2 linked regions of the Homo sapiens genome follow. The protein of the gene in region 1 purifies or fractionates together with the protein of each later gene. This does not show direct contact. Each region holds a gene or a part of one and is shown on either strand. Other genes may lie near its edges.

Region 1 (10,685 bases):
GGGGTGAGCTGGGAGGCACCGTGGGAGACAGAAGCATAGTGGCGGGAAGGGGGGGTCCTGACAGAGGCCGTGGGGTGGACAAACTCAAGCCTCTTAAACCCCAGGAGCACCCTCACTGGCCCCTGCAAACTTGCAAACACCCTGTGAACTGGCTGTAGGGCTGCGGGCCGGGCAGCCCAGGCAGGACACAGGAAGCGGGCGGGTCGTGTTTTTGTGAATGAAACTGCAGCCCAGCTTCCTCCTGGTCTCCACGCCCTGCTGGCCTCGCTTGACCACTCCGTAACCTCAGGCAAAGCACTGGCAGAAAGGGGGAACTTCAAAACGAAAGTGTGAGTCAGACAGGAGAAGGAAACGGAGAGAGAAATTCTTGTTTCACGGAGGCCTCACATGAGACCTGACCTGGGCTGGAACTGCAGCCTGGCCCCCAGCAGCTCCAGTCCCAGGGATGTCCACCTGCAGCCTCGGCCTGCTCGCCATGCCTGGCCCCCAGCCCCTCCAACACCATCTGGATGGGGAGGGGCCACCCACACCCCATCTGGGGCCCTCGACAAGGACGGCTGCAGAGGGTTCCCCGACAGTCATTTCCCATTGATCCCAGGAATGTTGAGTGAGCACCTACTGTGTGCCCGGCCTTGTGCTGTGAACGAGATAAGTAGGGCCCTGCCTTCATGGAGCTGACAGTCCACACTGGGGGCCGTTAACATGGGGAGCAAGTTGAATAGAGTTTGGGGTTGTTCCTTGTGTTACTATGGAGATAAATAGGTTGCTATGACGGACTGGCAGTATGTACGTGGGAGGAGGTGGCATGCAGCTGGGCTCGGAAGGAGGAGATGGGACCACCACAAAGAGCGGAGTGACGTGCATGCCAGGTGGCAGGGAGGCAGCCGGGGGAAGCAGCTCAGGATGTTCTAGGAACTCCAGAGGTTGTTGCGACGGAAGTACAAGGAATGAGGGGGCCAAGGATGAGAAGGAAGTGGTGCACGTGGGGCATTGGGGGTGGCTTGCAAAGCCCCCATTACCTTCTGAGCCCAGAGCTTGGGCAGGGCTTGTGCCCAGACAGAAAGGAAGCTTGCTGAACACCGGGGTTTCCCGCCTTGCAGATGGTCTGCTTTGGGGAAGTCACAGGTCCGTCTCCCTTGGAACAGGCAGGAAAGCCCCTCCATCCTTGGTGTCTGGGGTAGGGGAGTGAGGCAGGGCTGCTCACTCAGCCGCCTGCCTGGGACCCCTAAGCTTCCTCTTGACCCCTGACTCCTCTCCCAGGCAGGTTCTTCACCTCTCCTCCCTTGCTTGGAATGAATGGATTCTGCTGTCCCTTTAAAGGGACCTGAGTCAGAGAGTTAAGAATGAAACTGACTCATGGTAGAAGGGGTGGTCACCAGCTGGCCAGGCGCCAGGGCTGCGGCGGGAGAGGAAGCCGGGCGGCCGCAGCTGCCTGTGTGTGCTCGGCTGCAAAGGGCAGAAACCACAAAACCCCATTTGAAATTCCGCCGTGCAGCGTGTCTTGTGTAATGAGGTTACCCCTCATAATGGGGGCATTCAGGGCCCACACGGGCCTGGGGGCTGGGGGCCTGCCCCCCGGGGCCAGCTGATGCTGATGTCATCTTCAGTTAGGAGTATCCCCTCCCTTGATTAAGAACTTTAAAAAAAAAAAATGCACCAGGAAACTAGAGTGAGAGCCAGAACGGAAGTCTTGGTTTTATTTATAGTTGATAACTTACATCCGGCCTGCTCCTCAGGAAGCACAGCAGGGAGGAGACAGAGCCCAAAGGAGACGGCGACAAAAATGCCCAAACCCCTGAGCTAATGTGGTGACTGAGAGCAAGCCTAAAGCTCCCTTCTGAGCTCCCCAGCAGCCAAAGCAAAGAGAGAAACAGGGTCCTGCAGCATGATGTCACAGAAAACCAGGGACCCTGGAGCCTGGGTTCCAATAAGAACCTTACATTCTGACGCCTTAGATTTCTCCCTGGAAAATGGGGAGAAAAATACTGAATTGGTTGGGAGGGCCATGCAACACACCCAGCACAGTGTCTGGATGCATTTCAGAGGCCCCACCAGTCTAGGGTCTACAGAAAGACAGTACAGGCGCCTCACTCTCCATGCCTGTACGCATGGCAGACATCACTCATGGATTGCAACACGCTTCCCTGGAGCCAGATGCAGCCTCGTAGCCCCATTGCACAATGTCTCCAGGGGCTACCACCAATGCCCCAGTCGGCTGGAGCTGAACTTGCGTGTCCTCCCAGCCTCTAACCAGCTGAGAAAATGACCAGAAGGAGCTGGGTTATCATGATTTTCCCAGCACCTGGCTCATGCCTGCACCTGGGAGACACTCAATAAAAAATTGTCTAGTTAGGGAAGAGGCAGGGAAGAATGGGAGAAAGGAGAAGGAAGAGGAGAGGGTAGGAGAGTTGGGAGAGGAAACTTGGAACTTAGGCAACTTGTTGAGCTTCTCTAGGCCTCAGTTTCCTCATCTGTTAAGTGGGGGGTTTTAGTAGCTACCTCATGGAGTCATTCTGAGGATTAAATGAGGCTGGGCATATAAACCACTTGGCACACAGGACGTCCTCAACAAGTGAGGATGATGATGAGGAGGAGGAGGAGGAGGTGGTGGAGGAGGAGAGGAGAAGCACCTGACACTGGGGGTGGGTGCATAGTGGGCCCCACCTGGCCAGTCCTCCTAACTCCCATGCGCCACCCCCCCAGGGCCTCAACAGTCACAACAGTCAGCCAGGACCCAGCCACCCGCAGAGGCAGGCCCCAGGTGGAGCAGTGAGGGGTGGGGTGCCGGTGGAGGGTCAGGCATGCTCTTCTTCCCCTTTCATAGTCAGGGCAGCTCGATTCTGCCAGGGTCATGCAGAGTGCCCCGGCACCGGCCAGAAGTCCTCGCCCAGGTGAGCGCAGAGCCACATCCATTCGCGCCCACATAATTTCCATGGAGAGCCCATGCCGCCCATGCACCTCCTCAGGGCACGAGCTAATGGCCTGCTCAACGCCCACTCTAAAGGCTTCTCCCAGGTGAGCAACGCCCACCACCCTTGCAGACTGACTCCCAGAATTCCTGTTCCCAGTGCCACACAGAGTGCCTTGTGGTGCATCTGTGACCCTCCTGGCCCGGGACACGTCCACGTCTTCTGCCTCCTGGCTGAGCCCCGCACCTGTCTGGGCACCCTTGTCTCCCTTGTTTCTCTCCCGGTCACCAGCTCCAGCAGCAAACCACAGAGACACAAATGCTCCTCTCACCGCAACACGCAGGGCCTGGGAGAGACAGAGGCGGCCCCGGGATCTGCCGGCTTTGGAGCCCTCCACGAAGTGTCCAGCCTGCCGGGTGAACATGAGCAACGAGTCCCTGTCCCCAAGGGGGACAGACTACAGACAAGAAAACCGATGAATAAATCAGACATCAGCAGGTGGCATTCACCCACCCAAGAGAAGAGGTTACTGGGGTCAGGGAAGTGTCGGCACCTGGTGGAGGTGGAAGGTCAGGAAGGACACACCACGGAGACAATGACACCAGGAGGGAGACTGTTCCAGGCAGAGGCAACAGCGAGTGCAGAGACCTATCGGGAGAGCTGGGGTGTATGTGACGCAGATTCTGAGGGCCATGAGCCGAGGGAAGGAGCCAGACGCTGTCCTAAGTGCCAGGGGAAGTTGTTAGAGGTGTTAAGCGTGGCATGACGTGGCTGGATTTAGGGTCTGAGATGAACTTTCCTGCTCCTGAATGGACTCTGAGGAGAAGGAAGATACTACCATCCGTAATCCACCCCGGGAAGGCACTGACCTCCTTGACCATGGGGAGGATGAGAGGCCGCCGCTCTGTGCCTGGGTCCCCATGGCCTCTAGGGTCCCTTCACGTTTTCACCTCATGATCCTGGAAGCTGGGACCTGCCCAAATCCACCGGGTGGCCCCAGCCTCCCCATCTCTGGGGCAGGGGGTGGGCAGCCTTCTCCTCCTGGTTTATAGCCACAGATGACTCCAGGCACAGTGGTCCTCAACCGCCTCTAGGGACCATGGGGACGGCTGCCCTCTGTGTGTGACGGTGGCTGGGCAGAAGCCAGCTGGGCTGTCGTGGGTAGGGCCTGGAGGCCTCTGGCTGTATGGTGGTCTAGCTTTGGCACCACCTTGGGGGGCTCCGGGTAGGAGGTGTCCACCAGAGGGGACCTGGGCAGCTCAGCAGAGGCTTGGTCACTCCCGAGCCGTCTGTGGGTCCCACTGGTCTGTACCCTCAACCCCACTGACCTGCACTGGTCATGCCCAGCTCTCACAGGATGATGGCCCCAGCCTTGTAATGAGTCACCTGCTGCCCTCCTGCCCCTCCAGCTGGTCCCCCACCCAGCAGCCACAGGGCTTTCCTTAAAACATAAGAAAGACCCTGCTTCTTACCTGCTCAGATCCCACCAAGAACCGGCCACCTCACTCCAGATAAACTCCAGACTCTTCACTGAGCCCAAAGGCAACGAGCAGAAGTGTCCAGAAATCACACAGAGCTCAGCAGGTGGTGAGGCACCTGGACCCGAGTCACCCAGCAGCTGAACAGGCCATCCCTGAGGCCATGCACGCCCCGGCCCTGCAGGTGTGACGGCCGAGGCTTCCACGACGGGGGGTGAGTGGGAGCTAATATGGCTGGTGAAAGCACTGGGTTCAGTGGGGATGGCATCTCCCGCCCTCTGTCCAAGGTGGGGAAAAAGTCAGCTTCAGGTGAGGGAGACCCTGGACGCCTGGCTTTGGGCTGATTCCCCACTCACTTGGCCTCTCCCAAGCATACTTTCCTGCTTTGTAGGGATGTGGGTTCGCGGGACAGTAACAGGAGAATCAAGGCAAGAACTCAGAGGGGGATAGCCAAGGTAGGCGGAGCTGCCTGGTGGGTGGGACTAACCCAGGTGGGTGGGGCTGCTTGTGAGTGGGGCTAGCCCAGGTGGGTGGGGCTGCCTGGTGGGCAGGGCTTTCTTCCCCGTCAACATTTCCCTCTCTCGGTTAAGGCCAGGGCAGAGCCCACACATGGGTGTGCCCAACCTTAAGGCCTGCCCTGGGTGAGTTAAGACTCCCCAGCTCACCTAGGTCCTACCTGAGGGGAACCTACACGGCCAACCTCCTCAAGGATCCTGAAGCCACCCAGAAGACAGTGGGGCTAGGGTGCCATTCATTCATTCATTTATTCATTCACCTATTCATTTATTTACTCGCTTCACCACCCTTTCCTGGGTAATATTAAGAATAACAGTGGGCCTAGGAATATAGAACATTCTTAGGGGTTTCTTGCAGGCCAGGCACCCTAAGAAAAAGTTATGTAACCCACGTGGCCTCGCTGTGAGGGGGACGACTGCTGTCCTCACTTAATAGATGAGGAGCTGAGCCATGGAGGCCTCACAGCTGGGCAGCTGGGGGTGGACCCCATAGACTGGAGGGGGATGGGCAGGGGCAAGGAGTTCTGCTGGCCCCAGGCCTCTTGTACACATCTTGGGAAGTACTAAAAATGAGTACTTGCTCAAGTCCCTCTCTTCATTGAGCACAGGGAGCTCTTGGCCCTTCCCTCCTCCTCCCTTTACCCTCACCGCCCAATTCCACACGGGTGTACTGAGCACTTGCTAAGGGCCAAGACCAGCACTAGGTGGAGCACACAGTAGGAACCCAAGGCAGCCCTCCCTGCCCAGCTCTCCAGGACACTGTCGTCAATGCCAGCGGGAAGCATAGAGAGGCCAGGGAAAGACGGGCAGTCAGGAGGAAGGAGCCAGCGGAGGGGAGAGAGGGCCGGCAGCTCAGTGCACCTGGACCGTGGTGGATGCTGGACTATGACCAGAGACAGGGCTGCAGCCCAGAGCTAGCCCCAGACCCACAGGGCCTCAGGGGGCTTCACAGGCTTTGTCAGGGGTTTGGACTTTCTCCCGAGGGCTGGGGACCCTGCAAGTTGCAGAAACTGGGCTATATTTGGCATTTTAGAAGCCTCCCCCAGCTGTAGTGGAGGGGAATTGGAGGGAGTGGGAGAGGAGGTTCCCATTCTCACTCAGGTGGGAGATGGTGGTGGGATGGAGGGTGACCCTGATTGATAGGACTCAGGGACAAATTAAAGGTGAGGGCCAGGGAGAGGGTTATCCAGACAGCTCCCAGGAAGATGGCAGTGGGATGGAGGGTGACCCTGATGGGACTCAGGGACAAATTAAAGGTGAGGGCCAGGGAGAGGGTTATCCAGACAGCTCCCAGGAAGATGGTGACACCAGTGAGGTGGGGAGATAGGATGGCATTTGGTTCCCACTGAGCTGGAGATGCCTGTACAAAGCTTCTAAGATACCCAAGGCAGAATCTGCAGCTCCTGCAAAGACAAGAGCTCTGCTCTGCCTCCAGGGAATCAGGGGAGGTCTCCCCAGTGCCCTACTGGGACCTCCAGAGACCCTATGCGAGCCTCCCCCAACCCAACCACCAGCCCATCAGCGCCACCTACCGGCTGCTCAGGGCAGGCACTCAGCAACTTGCTGAGGGCAGATCCTGATGTGTCCCCGTTTTACAGATGAGGAAACTGAGGCCAGGAGACAAGATGACGCCTGTTTGAGGTTACGTAGAGGTGGAGGTGGCATAAGACCTCAGTTCTTCCTGGCAGATCCTCTCCAAAGAGCCCCGTCTGAGAGCAGATGGAAGGAGGTGGTGTCAGGAGATACCTTATCTTACTTTTGTCTGCTGTCAGCATTCCAACAACCCTAGATTATTTTGGCACCCCGCAGTGTCACTCAGTCTCACCATAGCCTCACTCTAATTATCAAAGCTCATCTTTTGGGCTGATATCTGCTTCTGGGACTCCCAGTAGCCCACCTGGGTCCTGCTGGGGAGGACTGTAGAAATCTGACTGCCCCAGGTTGATTTTCTCCCTCTGTCTTCAACATTCAGATTGCCAGCCCACCTGTTAAATCATGATGAGTTGGTGATGGTGATGGTGATGGTGATGATAGTGATGATGGTGATAATGATGGCGTTGATGATGGTGATGATAATGGTGATGATGGTGGTGATGGTGATGGTGATGATGGTAAGGATGATAATGGTGATGATGATGGTGGTGATGATGGTGATGACGGTGATGGTGATGATGGTGGTGATAATGATGGTGATGACGGTGATGGTGATGAAAGTGGTGATGATGGTGGTGATGATGGTGAGGATGATAATGGTGATGATGGTGGTGGTGGTGATAGTGATGATGATGATGGTGAACATGGTGAGGATGATAATGGTGATGATGGTGGTGGTGATGATGGTGATGATGGTGGTTATGATGATGGTGATCATGATGGTGAAGATGATAATGATGATGATGGTGGTGGTAATGATGGTGATGATGGTGGTCTGATGATAATGTTGGTGATGATGGTGATGATGGTGGTGATGATGATGGTGATGGTGATGATGGTGGTGATAATGATGGTGATGGTGATGGTGATGATGGTGATGATGGTAATGATGATGATGGTGATGATGGTAATGGTGATGACGGTAATGATGATGATGCTGGTGATGATGATGATGATGGTGGTGATGATGATAATGGTGAGGATAACTTGTACTGAACATGCACCACATGTCAGTAGTTTTCCCACACTATTTCATTTAATCCTCATGACAACTTTATGGCTAGGACTACTGTTATCCCCATTTTACAGAGGAGGAAACTAAAGTGTACAGTGGCTCAGTCACATAGCAAGTTAGCAGTGGAACCTAGGGGCACCCAGGCAGTTGCACCAAGACCTGCTCCTAACATTACCCTATACTGCTTTTGGCTCAGCCTACAGAGCTGTCTTTGTGACCCCTTCTCTGACACTCCTCCTCTGAGCCAAAGGGCAGCTCCTCCCATCATCCATATCAGTCTGACTGCTCTTTCGCAGTAAGACACAATGAGGAAGCCAAAGACTCTAAAGGGAGGGGCACAGGGATGCCAGTTTCCCTCAGAGCACTGCCAAGGAGGGACCACAGCTCCAATGGCGTGGGCATATGATGTTCCACCTGCCACAACTCCATGCCCAACTCTCCTGCTCTGAGGGATCAGGCTTGGCCCTGACCCTTCTGCCTGTGAGCAACTGGTGAGCAGCCAGCCCAGGTTGCAGCCACCAGCATGTGGGCACTGGTCAGCACAAGGCATGTCTCCTGTCCAGTACTCAGGGCCTCGCTGGCCACAGTTGGACTCTGAAAGATTCCTGATGTGGACTCAGATGTGTTTGAGCCTAAAAACATGCTTTTCATTGGTCCCACCCTACTTCAAACAAAACAGAAGCCTGGGTTGTTCTAAAAAACCATGCACAGCTGCATCATCTATTGCCCAGGCCCCAAGGGTCAGGTTCTACCAAAATTTCTACCTGCATGATCCCATTTAACCTTCCAGCTGCCCTGCCAGTGGCCCTCACTCCATTTTACAGATGAGTAAACTGAGGCCCAGAACAGTCATGCTGCCTCTTCAAGGCCATAAGCCGTTGGAGATCAGAGCCAGGATTCTGAACCAAGGCTATGTGAAGCCAGTGGCCCTCTCCATGCCCCACCCCAGCCCAATATGGTGCGATCTTCTTGGGAAAAGTAAGAACTGATGCTGAATTAATTTTTAAAATTGTGGGAGGCAGAATTCTATGATGGTCCCCAGACCCACACCTCTGGTATACATGCCCTACATAGTCCCTGCCCCTGTGAATATGATGAACACTCTATGATAGGATTGTGTTTGATGGCACTGTTGACTTGTTCATTTTGAGAAAGGGACACTAACCTAATGGGCCTGACCTCATCACATGAGCCTTTTACAAGTAGGGTGTTTTCTCCATCTGGTCCTCAAAGTGGAAGTCGGGAATTGGACGATGAGAACCACTGCTGATTTGGAAAATGAAGGGGACCACATGGCAAGGAATGTGGGCAGCCAAGGGAGCTGAGAGTGGCCCCAGCCAACAGTCAGCAGGAAACAGGGACGTCAATCCTACAGCTGCACCTGCAAGCAACTGCATTCGGCCAACAACCCGGATAAGCGTGGATGCAGACTCCTCCCCAGATCCCCCAGAAGGAGCCCAGTCTGCCTGACACCCTGATTTTCACCACGTGAGACCACGAGCAGAAGACCCACAAAGCAGTGCCTGGATGTCTGACCTGCAGCACTTTGAACTTGCAACTGGGGTTGTGGTAAGCTATTGAGTTGGTGGCGATTTGTTATGCCGATAGATAACTAATACGGGTATGCCTGCAGGTGGTCTCCGGGGGATCTTTGAAGGTCATGGCCAGTGGGGCCTTTCCTCAGGAGGTTCCTGAGGCTTGGGTTCCTCCTGGGATGGGGGCAGGGGAGCCGGTTGCCTCTCCACCCAGACCTGCTTGGGTGCTGCAGAATTAGCAGGTGCCACAGTGAGAGCATGAGCTGTGGAGAGCAAGAGGGAGGCCTTGGTTCAAATCACTGCCTTGCACCACCTCTCTGGGCCTCCCGTTCCCCAACAGTAAAGCAAGATGGATGCCAGCAAGTTGTGAGTGAGAGAGTGAACTAAGTGATTCATTAAAAAGTGCGTAGCTCAGTGCCTGGCACAGAGTACGTGTTTAAGAAGCCCTGGGTGGTGATCAGATGCTGATCTCGACATTGTGTTATGATTATCACACACATGACAGAGGGTGTCCAGGCCAAGCCCTATAGCACTGAAATAGGTACCTGCCTCTCTGCCTTGCTGGCTGGCACCCCAAGTAGGAATTTCTCCCGCAAGGAGCAACACAGAAGGCTGGCTGGAGGCCCCTGCTGCTCCTGGGGCAGAGAGGGACCCTGTCCATTCACACTGGTAGAGCCACCTACCAAGGTCCTCCAGAGCCTTGCAGAGGGGTTGAAGAAGGCATTCCTTCAACAATTGTAAAAGGTGCATTTTAGAAACCAAGAGGGTCTTGCTTCTGTGAGTCGGGACTGAGGGTGAACTGGACACCTGGCCCTGTGCCAGCACTGTCAGAAACAAAAAGGAACCAAATCCCTGTTTCCATGCATTCTGGGAGAGAGACTCAGAGACAATGGCTGGCAGGGGATGGGCACAAAGGTGAAACTCAGTCGTTCTGTGATGGGCCCCAGGAATGGAGCAAAGGAGAGAGATTCTTTGCATACAGGTGGTTTACAACACAGTAAACATCTCAATGCAAAGCATGGGGCTTTCTCAGTGCAAAGCATGGGGCTGTCCGAGACGATGCCGGAGCTCGGAGGAGCTGGGCCAGGGAGGGCGGGGGGCTTTGCTGTCAGTGCTGCAGAGCTAGCAGAAGCTTTCCAGGCTGCGCAGGCAAGAGGAAGCAGCCCAGGCAGAGGCAACAGGTGGATGCAGAGGCCGGAGCAGACACGGCAAGTCAGGGAGCTTCGGCTGCTCAGCATGAGTCATGCCCACCTCCCTGGGTCAGAAGCCCCTGGACCTTGCTTCCGGACAAGATTCGTGTCCCAACTTTGGTCCCTTCCAAGACTTACTCAGACGATGGCTTAACTGAAGTGCACTATAGACAGTGAGCCGGCAGCTACATGGGGCCCAAGGGAGAGGCTGGAGGCTGGGAGCGGCACCATAAAGCTAGAGGGTGTGGTTCACAGGTCTGGGTTTAGCTTTCACAGGTGTCTGAGGCCATCGGGTGACCCGGGCAATGGGTGGGGATAGTGTGGGTTCTTATCTCAGGACATGTCACAAGCTACTCCAGGCCCTTGAGATAAGAAAGTTCAATGGCTTTG
Region 2 (11,404 bases), on another chromosome or scaffold:
GATCATGTCTTGGGATATTGCCAGTGGCTGTTATACATCAGCTCTGATCTGAAGAGAATCCATGTACAGCTAAGAGAATAAACAGCTCCATTCCCATTCTAGCTGATCGTCTCCCCAGGACACCAGGCAAAGTTGCTGCTGACTAAGGAGGCCCCCCTTTTTTTGTTTTTGTTTTTGAAGTGGACATCTTTCCTTTAGAAACTCAGCACTGGCTGAGGCACCAATTAATTTTGCATAAGCTGCTACAGGACCCTCAGATGCTAATCAGTTTGTTCATAACCACAGAGTATTGTTTTAGGGTCATGTACGTAACTTCTGCCTCCAGCCCTGTGGATTTATTTACTGCTTAGTCCCTAGTTCCTGCAGCTGTGTCCTTTCAATGACTGCTTTATGGTGGCCAAGAGAGTTGAGGTCGACTGCCAGGACTCAGAGATCTGGAGGAACACATGGACACATTATTCTTTTGCTCTGAAGCTATCCAATTCCTGTTCCGGTCAGAAGGGGAGATAGTGGGAGGATATCTCTGAAACTGCCCAGCGCTTACTGCTGATATTCCTCAGGTCTGACATTATTGCAAGAGAACAAACTTAGATCTACCCTCTGTGTGTTCTTCAGTGGAAGGTGAATTACTAACGAAAGTGTAATAATACAAAACACAATTGAGTGTAGCCTTGGCTTTATTTGTAAGACCTACTCTGGAGATATTATTTTCTTTACTCCAAGACTACACATTGGATCCAGTCTGCTTCAAACAAGAGACCGGGAAAGACGGGTTACTATGCTAATTGAATACTAATGAGGCCTTTGCTTAAGTTGGGTTTTGTTGCAATTATTTGCCACTACATTTCTTTTGTATTTATGTAGAGGGAAAAATAAACTACTTCAAAGTTAGCAAGAGTCTTACTTAGCCTGAGCACTTGCAGAAAAAATGTCTTGCTACTCTTTCTTTTGTACTTGTAACATTTGTAAAGAGTTTTGTTCGGCACTATGGAAAAGCAAAATATCATCATCATTATTACTGGCCTTTGTCCACAGTGGATTTCATCCAGATTCTAACCAGTGACTCTGTGACTAACAATCTGAGTCACTAAGTTTCAGATGTTTATGGATTTCAACACAATTCCCAGACTGAAAGGTTTTTTTTTTTAATTTACTTTCATGTTTCAAGACTCAGAAAGAATTAACTGCCTTTCTGTATTTCCAGTCTAGTGCAGAAAGAATTAAATGCCTTTCTGTATTTCCAATCTAGTGTCACTGAGTGACGGGCTAGGAACAATTCAGTGGATAGACTGAACTGTTCCTTCAATTACAGATTTGTATTGACAAAAGTCAATTACCAAAATGTCAAAAAAAAATTAGTATATACTTCCAGGACAAAAGCCTCCAGGCTGGCAGAGAATTCAGTGAATTATAAATATTTGTGTTTTCACCATGGTAGTGGCACAGGATGATTACAGAATTTAAAATGCAGAGAATCACGGTGATGGGAAAACTGAATATCCACATGTGGAAGAATGAAACTAGACCCCTCTTTCTCACCATATACAAAAATCAACTCAAGGCCGGATGCAGTGGCTCATGCCTGTAATCCCAGAACTTTGGCAGGCCGAGGCAGGCAGATCACTTGAGGTCAGGAGTTTGAGACCAGCCTGGCCAATGTGGTGAAACCCCATCTCTACTAAAAGCACAAAAATTAGCCGGGCGTGGTGGTGGGCGCCTGTAATCCCAGCTACTTGGGAGGCTGAGGCAGGACAATCACCTGAATCTGAGATGCGGAGGTTGCAGTGAGCCGAGATAAAACCACTGCACTCCAGCCTGGGCAACAGAGCAAGACTCCGTCTCAAAACAAACAAACAAACAAACAAACAAACAAACATCAACTCAAAATAAAGACTGCCATGTAAAACCTGAGATGATGAAACTGCTAGAAAAAAAACATAGTGGAAACACTTCATGACATTGGTCCAGGCAAGGATTTTTTGGATAAGACCTCAACAAAAAGAATGAAATCCTGTCATTTGCAACAACATGGATGAACCTGGAGGACATTATGTTAAGCAAGAAAAGCCAGAAACAAAAGGCAAATACGACATGATCTCACTTATATGTGGAATTTTAAAAAGTTGATCACATAGAAGTAGAGACTAGAATACTGGTTAGCAGAGTCAGGTGAAAGGTGGGGAGGAGTGGCAGGAGTAGGAGAAGTTGGTTAGTAGGTACTAGGTTATAGTTAGATGAGAGGAATAAGTTCTGGTACACTAACGCAGTAGTCTCAACCTTTTTGGCACCAAAGACCTGTTTTGTGCAAGACAATTTTTCCACGGATTTTGAGGGGGGATGGTTTCAGGATGAAACTGTTCCATCTCAGATCATCCGGCATTAGTTAGGTTCACAGAAGGAGCATGCAACCTAGATCCCTCCCATGTGCGGTTCACCATAGGGTTTGTGCTCCTGTGAGAATCGAATGCGGCTGCTGATCTGACAGGGGCAGAGCTCAGGTGGGAATGCTCGCTGACACTCACCTCCTACAGTGCAGCTCAGTTCCTAACAGGCCACAGGCTGGTACCAGTTTGCAGCCCGGTAGTTGGGGACACCTGCTGTATGGCACAGCAGAATGATATATTTAACAATAATGTGTTGTATATTTCAAATCAGCTAGAAGAGACAATTTTGAATGTTCTCACCACAAAGAAAAGAAAAATGCTTGAGATGATGAGTATGCTAATTACCCTGAGTTGATCATTATGCAATGTATACATGTAGTGGAATATCACACTGTACCCCATAGATAATATGTATAACTATTATGTGTCAGTTAAAAATAAAACTAAAAAAAAAAGTAAGTAAACACAATATAAACACCAAAAAAAAAAAATAAATAAAATGCAGAGAAACTACTGCTAAAATGTAATAAAGAGAATGATAGAAAAATACAAGTATATTGACTGGTTATTAACTTTGCAAAGATGCACATCTTTATTCTTATAGCTCTTTCAAAGGTATATTAGAAAATGGACAGTCTGACCAGGGCCTACTTGAGGGTGGAGGGCGGGAGGAGGGTAAGGATCAAAAAACTATGTATCAGGTGCTATGGTTATTACCTGGGTGATGAAATAATCTGTACACCTAACCCCTGCGACATGCAATTTTCCCAAACAAACCTGCGTGTGTACCCCCAAACCTCAAATAAAAGTTGGAAAGGAAAAAAAAAGAAAAGGAAATGGACAGTCTGAGCTAAAATATCCCTTTTTATGAAAAATCTCATTATTTTAATAATTTTATCATTTTTCTGTATTCATTCTCATACCAGCTCTAGACTATCCCTGGACTATAACTATCCCTGATTGGTCACCTTACGTCAATCTTTTATTATTATTATTATTATTTGTTTGTAGGGACAGGGTCTTGCTCTGTCACCCAGGCTGGAGTGCAGTGGTGCAATTATGACTCAATGCAGCCTCAAACTTCTGGCCTCAAGCAATCTTTCCAGCTCAGCCTCCCCAGTAGCTAGGTCTACAGGTGCCACGCTACCACACCTGGCTAAGTTTTTAATTTTTTATAGTGATGTGGTCTTACAATGTTACCCAGGTTTGGTCTTGAATTCCTGGCCTCAAGTGAGCCTCCTGCTTTGGCCTCCCGAAGTGCTGGTATTACAGGTGTGAGCCATGGTGCCTAGCCCCATCAACCTTAAAAGACAATTCCTTGTCATTTTCACATGGAATAATTTTACAAACATTTGGTCATACATTTTTACAGCATGTCAGGTTAATAATATCTTACAGTTTTATAGCATTTTGCAAAGAATTCTCTTGCATGTTATCTCACATTCATCTCATCATCATATGCAGTAGAGAATAAATGGGTGGCTCCATTTTATGGATGAGAAAATTGATGTATATTACACTGATATAATTGGCTTAGACTCATTGGCTAAAGTAACATGGATTGTTACAGAAAAATAGAGGTCCTAGTCCAAAGCTATTCCACTAGACATGTGATATGGTTTGGCTCTGTGTCCCCACCCAAATCTCATGTTGAATTGTAATTCCCAGTGTTGGGGGAGGGATCTGGTGGGAGGTGATTGGCTCATGGGGGTGGATTTCTCCCATATTGTTCTCGTTATAGTGAGTGAGTTCTCACAAGATCTGATGGTTTAAAAGTATGTGGCACTACACCCTTGCTCTCTCTCTCTCCTGCTCTGCCATGGTAAGACGTGCTTGCTTCCCCTTTGCCTTCTGCCATGATTGTAAATTTCCTGAGGCCTCCCAGCCTTGCTTTCTGTACAGCCTGCAGAACTGTGAGTCAATTAAACCTCTTTTCTTCATAAATTATCCAGGTCTAAGGTAGTTCTTTATACCAATATGAGAACAGACTAATACAACATGTAACAGAAATTTGAGGTTTAAAAAGAATTTTTGCCTCTAAATCCTCATAATGCAAGATTAAGAATAAAGCCTTGGACAGATGAGCTGTTATTTCTGGATACCGGTCTTTGCAAATACTATTTGGGTTATCAAGTATTATTTTGTATTATGTTAATGCTCTCCAAAGTATCGAAGTGTAATCAGACCGCACAAAGTATTATCAAAATATACAAAGATAATAAAATGAATTAGATTTTTAAAAACTATTTACTCATCATTCTGTGCCCTTTATAGGATGACCTATATAAGTCTATGTAGGATGTTCTTGAGCACACATTCATAAGATTCCTGTTGTCTTTCAAGCAAGTTACATTTTTCACTGTGAACTTGTTGGATTTTACGTTTAAACTAATAGCCTTTCTAAGGGAAGAAGATTTATCTACCATTTCCCTTACATCTTCCGCAGTGTCTAGGCTGGAACCAAAGTTGATGCTTTTTGACTTCTGTATGGCAACTACTCCTGTGACATATTTTGAAGTTCCTGGTACCCCCCAATCTGGCCCTGCACCCACACTGAGCCTCATGGCTAAGTTTTGATATCCAAGCAGTAAGATGGTCTAGTGGAATCCCCTAAAGCATGGGTCATGAGCCACCCACATCACACCCATCTGGTGTCTCTCAGCAGGTACAGGATTCTAGGTGCTTCCACAGATCTTCCCCACCCAGTGAAGCTGCATTAACCAGCTCCCCAGGAGAGTCTTGTGAACTCTAAAGTTTGATCATCATCCTAATGATAGCACTTTTCTGCTCCTGGAAATTTTAATGATGTTGCTTGTGAATATGGTTCCTGGGCCTGGTCTTTGAAAATGAAAATAAAAGATGGTGCTTGACTTTGGGGAAAAGAAGTGAGATGCAGACTACAAAAATGGCTCAAAACAACGCCCTCTCACAATTACTAGGAGAAAATGTTTACCCGTGTGCTGAGAAACAACACCCCCCATTTCTGTAAGGCAGTTGCCAAGCAGATGCCTGATTTCAGGGATCTCTGGAGCTGCACCCTCCAAGGCGCTGGCGCTTAGAAACGACATGAAGAGCCAGCCCTGCTGAGCAGGACCAGGGCGCCAAGTCTGAATGACTAATATTTTTCCAACCTAGAACGTCATTAACCGATTGATAACTATTTCCCCTTTAAACTAGGCAAAATCAGCATTCCTCTCCCCTCTGTGTGCCAGAATTCGAAGATGAACAAAAGACGCCTGCATCAGGAAAACTGTGTTAAGTTCTCTTGGATTCAGGGCTTCGACCCGAATTGGGCTGAGTGAATGAAGACGCTGGTGAGATGTCAGGGACCTGGGGAATGAAGACACACCCAGAAAAAGCAGGAACCTACAGGAGTGGACAAAGAACCGGAGCATAGGCATGTGAGAGGGGTTGAAATGAACAACAGACTCATACAAGAAGGATTTCTAATCAGAAAAGAGCGATTGCTTTAGTAAAGCTGCAACCTGGAACAATTACAATCTGACCAGATGTTCTTGCAAAACTGGTAAAGCAGAGAATGTGTAAAAATCTCTCCCCCTCCTCCCCTGAATGCAGTTGACGAAAGGCCGAAAGGCTGGATCCTCAAAGCCCAGATCTGATCACTGCAGATCCGGGCCACCCTAAAAGCAATCGGGTGTAATCTTTCCAGCTCCAGGCCCTGGGATGAGGGAGGTGGGGGAAGGTGGAGAAAGGTGGAGGAAGATGGAGGGAGGTGAGGGGAGGTGGAGGGAGGTGAGGGGAGGTGGAGGGAGATGAGCGGAGGTGGAGAGAGGTGGGTGGCGGCTCCAAGGTTTGAAAACACATCCAGGACACTTCCCATCCTCCAAGAGCACGCTGGCTCACAGGCTCTTTCACGCTTCTGCTTGGGACAATCGCGTGCATGAAATCTGGCAGGGAGGAGTCAAGGAGATTGTTAGCCCGAGGGCTGGGACGGTGGATCTGGGAATCAGGGGCCTGGGGGACACGTTCTCTTCCTGCCGCGGGCTTCCTGCTCCAGAGTCCCCGCGGGGCTTGGCGGCGGGGCCGGGGGCTGCACGCGACCATCCGGCAGGGGGCGGCGGCGACAGCGGCGGCCGCAAGGGACGCGTCCGGGGCCCGCGCTCAGGGGGAGCGGTAGCGGCTTGGCAGCTGCTCCCCGCGCCCCCGCGGCCTAGCCAGGGGAGGGGGCGCAGCGCCGGGGCCATGGATCCGCGTCAGGCCGCTGCTTCCCGCCGGCGGGCCCGGGGCGGGGCGGACCCGTCCCCGTCCCCGTCCCCGTCCCCGTCCCCGTCCCCATCCCCACGTCCCATCCCCCACGCAGCCTTCGCCCTCCCTGCTCCTTCCCGCGCCGTCTTCCCTTCCCGCGTTCCCCGGGAGAAACATGGCCGGGAGCAGCGAGGAGGCGCCAGACTACGGGCGAGGCGTCGTGGTAAATGCAAACTCCCTATTTTGGGGCTCGGCCCGCTCCCCTCCCTCCCTGGCACCCTGCTTGTAGATTAAATGCTTGCCGTGCGTCGGGGGAGAGAGAGGGCCACCGCTTTGTTCTCCCTCCCGGCGGGGATCGCTTCCATCCTCGGACCCGGGCCTCCTCTCCCCGCCCCCAATCTGACGAAACTCTGAGTCCCGTCCCTTCACCCCGAGTTCCCAGCGTCCCCCCGTGTCCTCCGGCCGGTAGCTCGCTCCTGCAGCGTCCCGCCGGCGCCCAGCCGTCCCCATCCCCGCGAGCCACGGGGAGTCGCTTCTGCGAGCCCGGCAGGGCCCCAGAGACCCCCGCGTGCTGCTCTGGAGGCCTCCTTCTTCCTGGGTCTCCTCTTGACTCCTCCAGGGCGGGCTTCAAGTTTTGTTTTTAAAAAGCACACTGAGGGGTTTTGAAGGCAGCTAGGAAATAAAGTAGCTCAAGTGGACAGAGCTTGAGATTTGAAGCCTTTGGTACCCAGGTTGGGGGCTCTCTGGCAGTGGAGGCCTCTGCAGGAGCTCTAGGACACGCTGGCGGCTCCTGAGTGACCTATGGCTTGTCTGTAAAAGGGAGCAACAGCAAGCTGGGCTCTGGAGCCAATTGGGAGGATGCATGTAAAATATCTAGCAGTGTGTCCGGATGGGAGGGTGTGGGGTGCTGGTTTCCCAGAACTGAGCCTCATTAACCCTGAGAATCCTGACGGTGTCAGCCAGAGGGTACCCATCTCTCAGTGTGCTAGGATCCAACCCGTTCTTGACCTTGTGGCCACGTCCTCCCTGCTCCCTGAGAAGTGGTTTTCCTAGAAGGTGGTGGTTATAACTTGTGTCAGGTTCAGTGTGAAACTCAATGGTGGTGAGGATGGTGGGTGGGGCTAACTTGCCATCTCTTTCCAGGGATCAGCTTGTCATTCACAGATAATCTGTTTATGAATATGAATGGCCTGAACTAAAGTAAGTGGGCTGGGGAGGGAAACGTGTCACATTCAGACAGAAGGGTCAGGTTGAAATGTGGGGCTCAGTGCTTAATTTAACAGCAGGACCTTTCCTTCTGAAAGGATGAGGAGTTGATTTATTCATTCCACACGTTTATTGTCCTGCTGGGTTGTAGGAGGTGCTGTAGGCTCTGGGGTGCAAAAGACAAAGGCCTTGTCTTCATGAGCTTGCGTTCTAGAGAAGACATAGGCAAGCAGTGTGTAAACAAATAGAGAAAATTTCAAATAGAGATATGTGCAATAGGAGGAGGGTAACAGGATAGAGGGTAATTGGAGGAGAAGGGGGGAGTGATGCTTTTGCTCAGGTGGTCAGGGCAGCCTCTCTGCGGTGACCTTTGAGCCAAGATCTGAAGGGTACACAGGAGTAGCCATGTGGACTGCAGGCAGAGACCCGCATACCAAATGCAAAAGAATCATTGTATCCGATTTATGCTTTTACAAAAACCATTCCAGTTGCCCCAGGAGGAGGGGCAAGCCTAGCGGTGTGATGGATGGGAGGGGGACTAAAACGCAAAAAGGGCAATCATTAAGTTCATTCTGGACAAATTGAGTTTGTAGTGCCTGTAAGGCCCACAGGTTGGCCTGCACTGTAGGCAATTTGAAATTCACATTTGGAATTCTGGAGAGTGATTGGAGAGATTTGGAAGTCATCAGCAAAAAGAATAATATGTAATGTTCGGGAGTGCTCAGTGAATATGGAAAAAACAATTAAAGCAACTGTTAAGGATGGAAGCCTGGAAAGTCCCAAATATAAGAGGCTGCCTGTGGGGGAGAAGCTGGTTGAAGGAACCGAGAAAGAACTTTGAAGGGTGGGAGGGCAGGCAGCATGGTGGGTGCCTTGGGAATAGAGCATTGTTGAGCAGGAGGGGCGGGGTCAAGAGGTCATCAGAAGTGTCAGATGTTACAGGGACAGCAAGTCGGATACCAAGATGGAAAACAGCCACTGTATTTAACAATTACAAAGCCATTAGTAGGGAGAATCTTTTAAACAACCACTGCATTGGTAGAATGGTTAAAATATAGTACAAGTTGAGCATCCCTAATCCAAAAATCCAAAATCCGAAATGCTCCAAAATCTGAAACTTTCTGAGCACCAACATGATGCTGAAAGGAGATGCTTACTGGAGCATTTTGGATTTCGGATTTTCAGATTAGGGATGCTCAACCAGGAAGTATAATGCAAATATTCCAAAATCCAAAGGAAAAAAAATCTGAAATTGGAAACGCATCTGATCCCAAGCATTTTGGATAAGGGGTACTCAACTTGTACTACCGTAACATACTACATACTTTTAGAAAAGAATAAGGTGAATCTAGATGCACGGATAGAGTAGGTAAATTGTTGAAGTCTAAAAAACAAGTGAGAGAACACTGTAAATAGCCCAGTCTATTGGTGTCAACAGAGGTCCTCTTGGAAGCAAGGTAATTTTTTGAAAGATGCAAAGAGGTAGTGAGAGGGGTATCAAGAGAGTAGAGGGCCAGGTGAGGTGGCTCATACCTGTAATCCCACCACTTTGGGAGGCCGAGGTGGGTGGATCTCCTGAGGTCAGGAGTTCAATAGAATCCTGACCAACATCGTAAAACCTTGCTGCTACTAAAAATACAAAATTAGCTTGGCATGGTAGTGCATGCCTGTAATCACAGCTACTTGGGAGGCAGAAGCAGGAGAATTGCTTGAATCCGGAAGGTGGAGGTTGCAGCAATCCAAGATTGCACCATTGCACTCCAGGCAACAAGAGTGAAACTCCTTCTTAAAAAAAAAAAAAAAAATAAATAAATAAATAAATAAATAAACAAAAAAAATGAGTATAAACTGGACCAGCTGCCAAGGGGCTTGGTGCTTGCATGAGAGCCCACAAAGGTGGGAAATAATCCACATATAATGGAGATAGTCCCTACATTTACATCCTTTTCTCCAGTAGAACTTGGAATAATTAGATTAACCTCAAGTTGGATATAAGCAGGCAACTTCAGAGCGAATCGAAGCTGCTGGTAGAAGGCAGCTCATGGCATGTAAGGCAGGAGGGAAGGGAGAGCTGGAGAGGATGAGTTTACTGGGAGAATAGAAAGCTCTCAAGGATGGGATACAAAAAATCAAATTAGTACCAGTTTTAAAAAGGGGCAGGTGGCTGGGAGTGGTGGCTCACACCTGTAATCCCAGCACTTTGGGAGGCTGAGAGAGCAAATCACTTGAGCCCAGGAGTTCGAGACCAGCCTGGGCAGCCAACCCTCTCTCTACAAAAAATACAAAACTTAGCCAGGCATGGTGGTGCATGCCTGTAGTCCCAGCTACCGGGGAGGCTGAGGTGGGAGAAGCACCTGAGCCCAGGAAGTCAAGGCTGCAGTGAGCCATGATCGTGCCACTGCATTCCAGCCTGGGTGTCAGAGTGAGACCCCATCTGAAAAAAGGGGCAGAGGGCAGGTAATAATAGCAAGCATTTCTTGAGCACAAATCTGTAAGGGAGGTCTAGTGTGCTCCCCATTTTACAGAAGAGGAAACTGAGGCACTGAGAGATTAAGTAAATCACCCAGGTCGCATAAGTAGCAAATGGCAGAAGCGGGATTTGAACCAGCTTTCAATCACTATACTACATAGCAAGCTGTGATTCCAGGATGGAATTTCAGGGTTGGGGCCATCTGTAGGACTGGTCTGGCTATGTGAATGTATTGCTAAATGGGGAATAAAGATGTGATTTGAGTTAAGAATGTAGTTTGAGCTAAGGCTGGTGAAGGAGCTACAAGATGAAGTCGTTGGAAAGATCGTTGAGGTAGGCATTGGAGTAAATCAGCCAAGGAATTGTCCAGGAATGAGGTAGAGAAGAAAATTCCGAGTTGGTAGAAATCTGTTGATAAAGATGGCAAGGGATGTAGAGTCAGATGATATAAATATAAAACGAGAAGTAAAGTTTGTGCAAGAGAAGGGAATATTAAGAGATTTAAGATGGCTCTTGCCTATAAATTGGCTTTTGGTTGAACTGGGGAGGTAGGACATTTATACCATTAACAATAAATGGTAGCAAATGCTAATTGCCACATAAGAGAGGTAGATCCTAAGGTCAGAAATTTTGCTCAGAGTTGGCTTGTCACTTGATCTGGAGCTAATACAGTCACCAGATTCCTGGTTGATACCTCTTTGTTACTTCTCAGGGAGAGATAAAGATCTTCTCTATCCACCTGGCTTTTGGGGATCGGGTTATTAGACATGTTTTTGTTTGTTTGTTTTTGTCTGGTTTGGTTTTGCCAAATGATTATCAACTGAGCTATTATTAGTACTTACCTAAGTGAGTTTGGTAGGAATCAGGAGAAGAGAGAAATCAGAAATGATTGTTGTGTTTCTGTTATGGCTGGCTTCCTGTCACCCCCCATGAAAATACGGCAGTATCAGAGATAAGTAATCAGGTAATATCAGAGATAAGTAATCCATCGAAAGCACAGCTCTACTAGGTGGTAATGAGTTTTCCTTCTGTGGGGCAAACCCACCACAGAAGAGGAAGGCATGTGGATAGGAGGTGGTTGGCCTGTCGAGCTTCCTTCATTCCTCTGTGAGCAGAACCTGGGAATCTTTTAGCAAAC

What was found.
Region 2: the proteins of MYEOV (region 1) and PRTFDC1 purify together in Homo sapiens (affinity purification with mass spectrometry; 2 studies listed by BioGRID and IntAct, with this or other methods). This does not show direct contact.

The regions. Positions count from the first base shown.
Region 1 is NC_000011.10:69,288,273-69,298,957, reverse strand, and holds MYEOV (myeloma-overexpressed gene protein), read right to left. Parts: upstream 4,804-10,685; 5' UTR 4,382-4,803; exon of another isoform or gene 3,726-4,381; 5' UTR 3,604-3,725; coding exon 3,463-3,603; exon of another isoform or gene 3,367-3,462; coding exon 2,566-3,366; 3' UTR 1,671-2,565; downstream 1-1,670.
Region 2 is NC_000010.11:24,947,937-24,959,340, reverse strand, and holds the start of PRTFDC1 (phosphoribosyltransferase domain-containing protein 1), read left to right. Parts: upstream 1-6,734; 5' UTR 6,735-6,765; coding exon 6,766-6,813; intron 6,814-6,892; exon of another isoform or gene 6,893-6,977; intron 6,978-11,404. UniProt on the Homo sapiens protein: Has low, barely detectable phosphoribosyltransferase activity (in vitro). Binds GMP, IMP and alpha-D-5-phosphoribosyl 1-pyrophosphate (PRPP). Is not expected to contribute to purine metabolism or GMP salvage.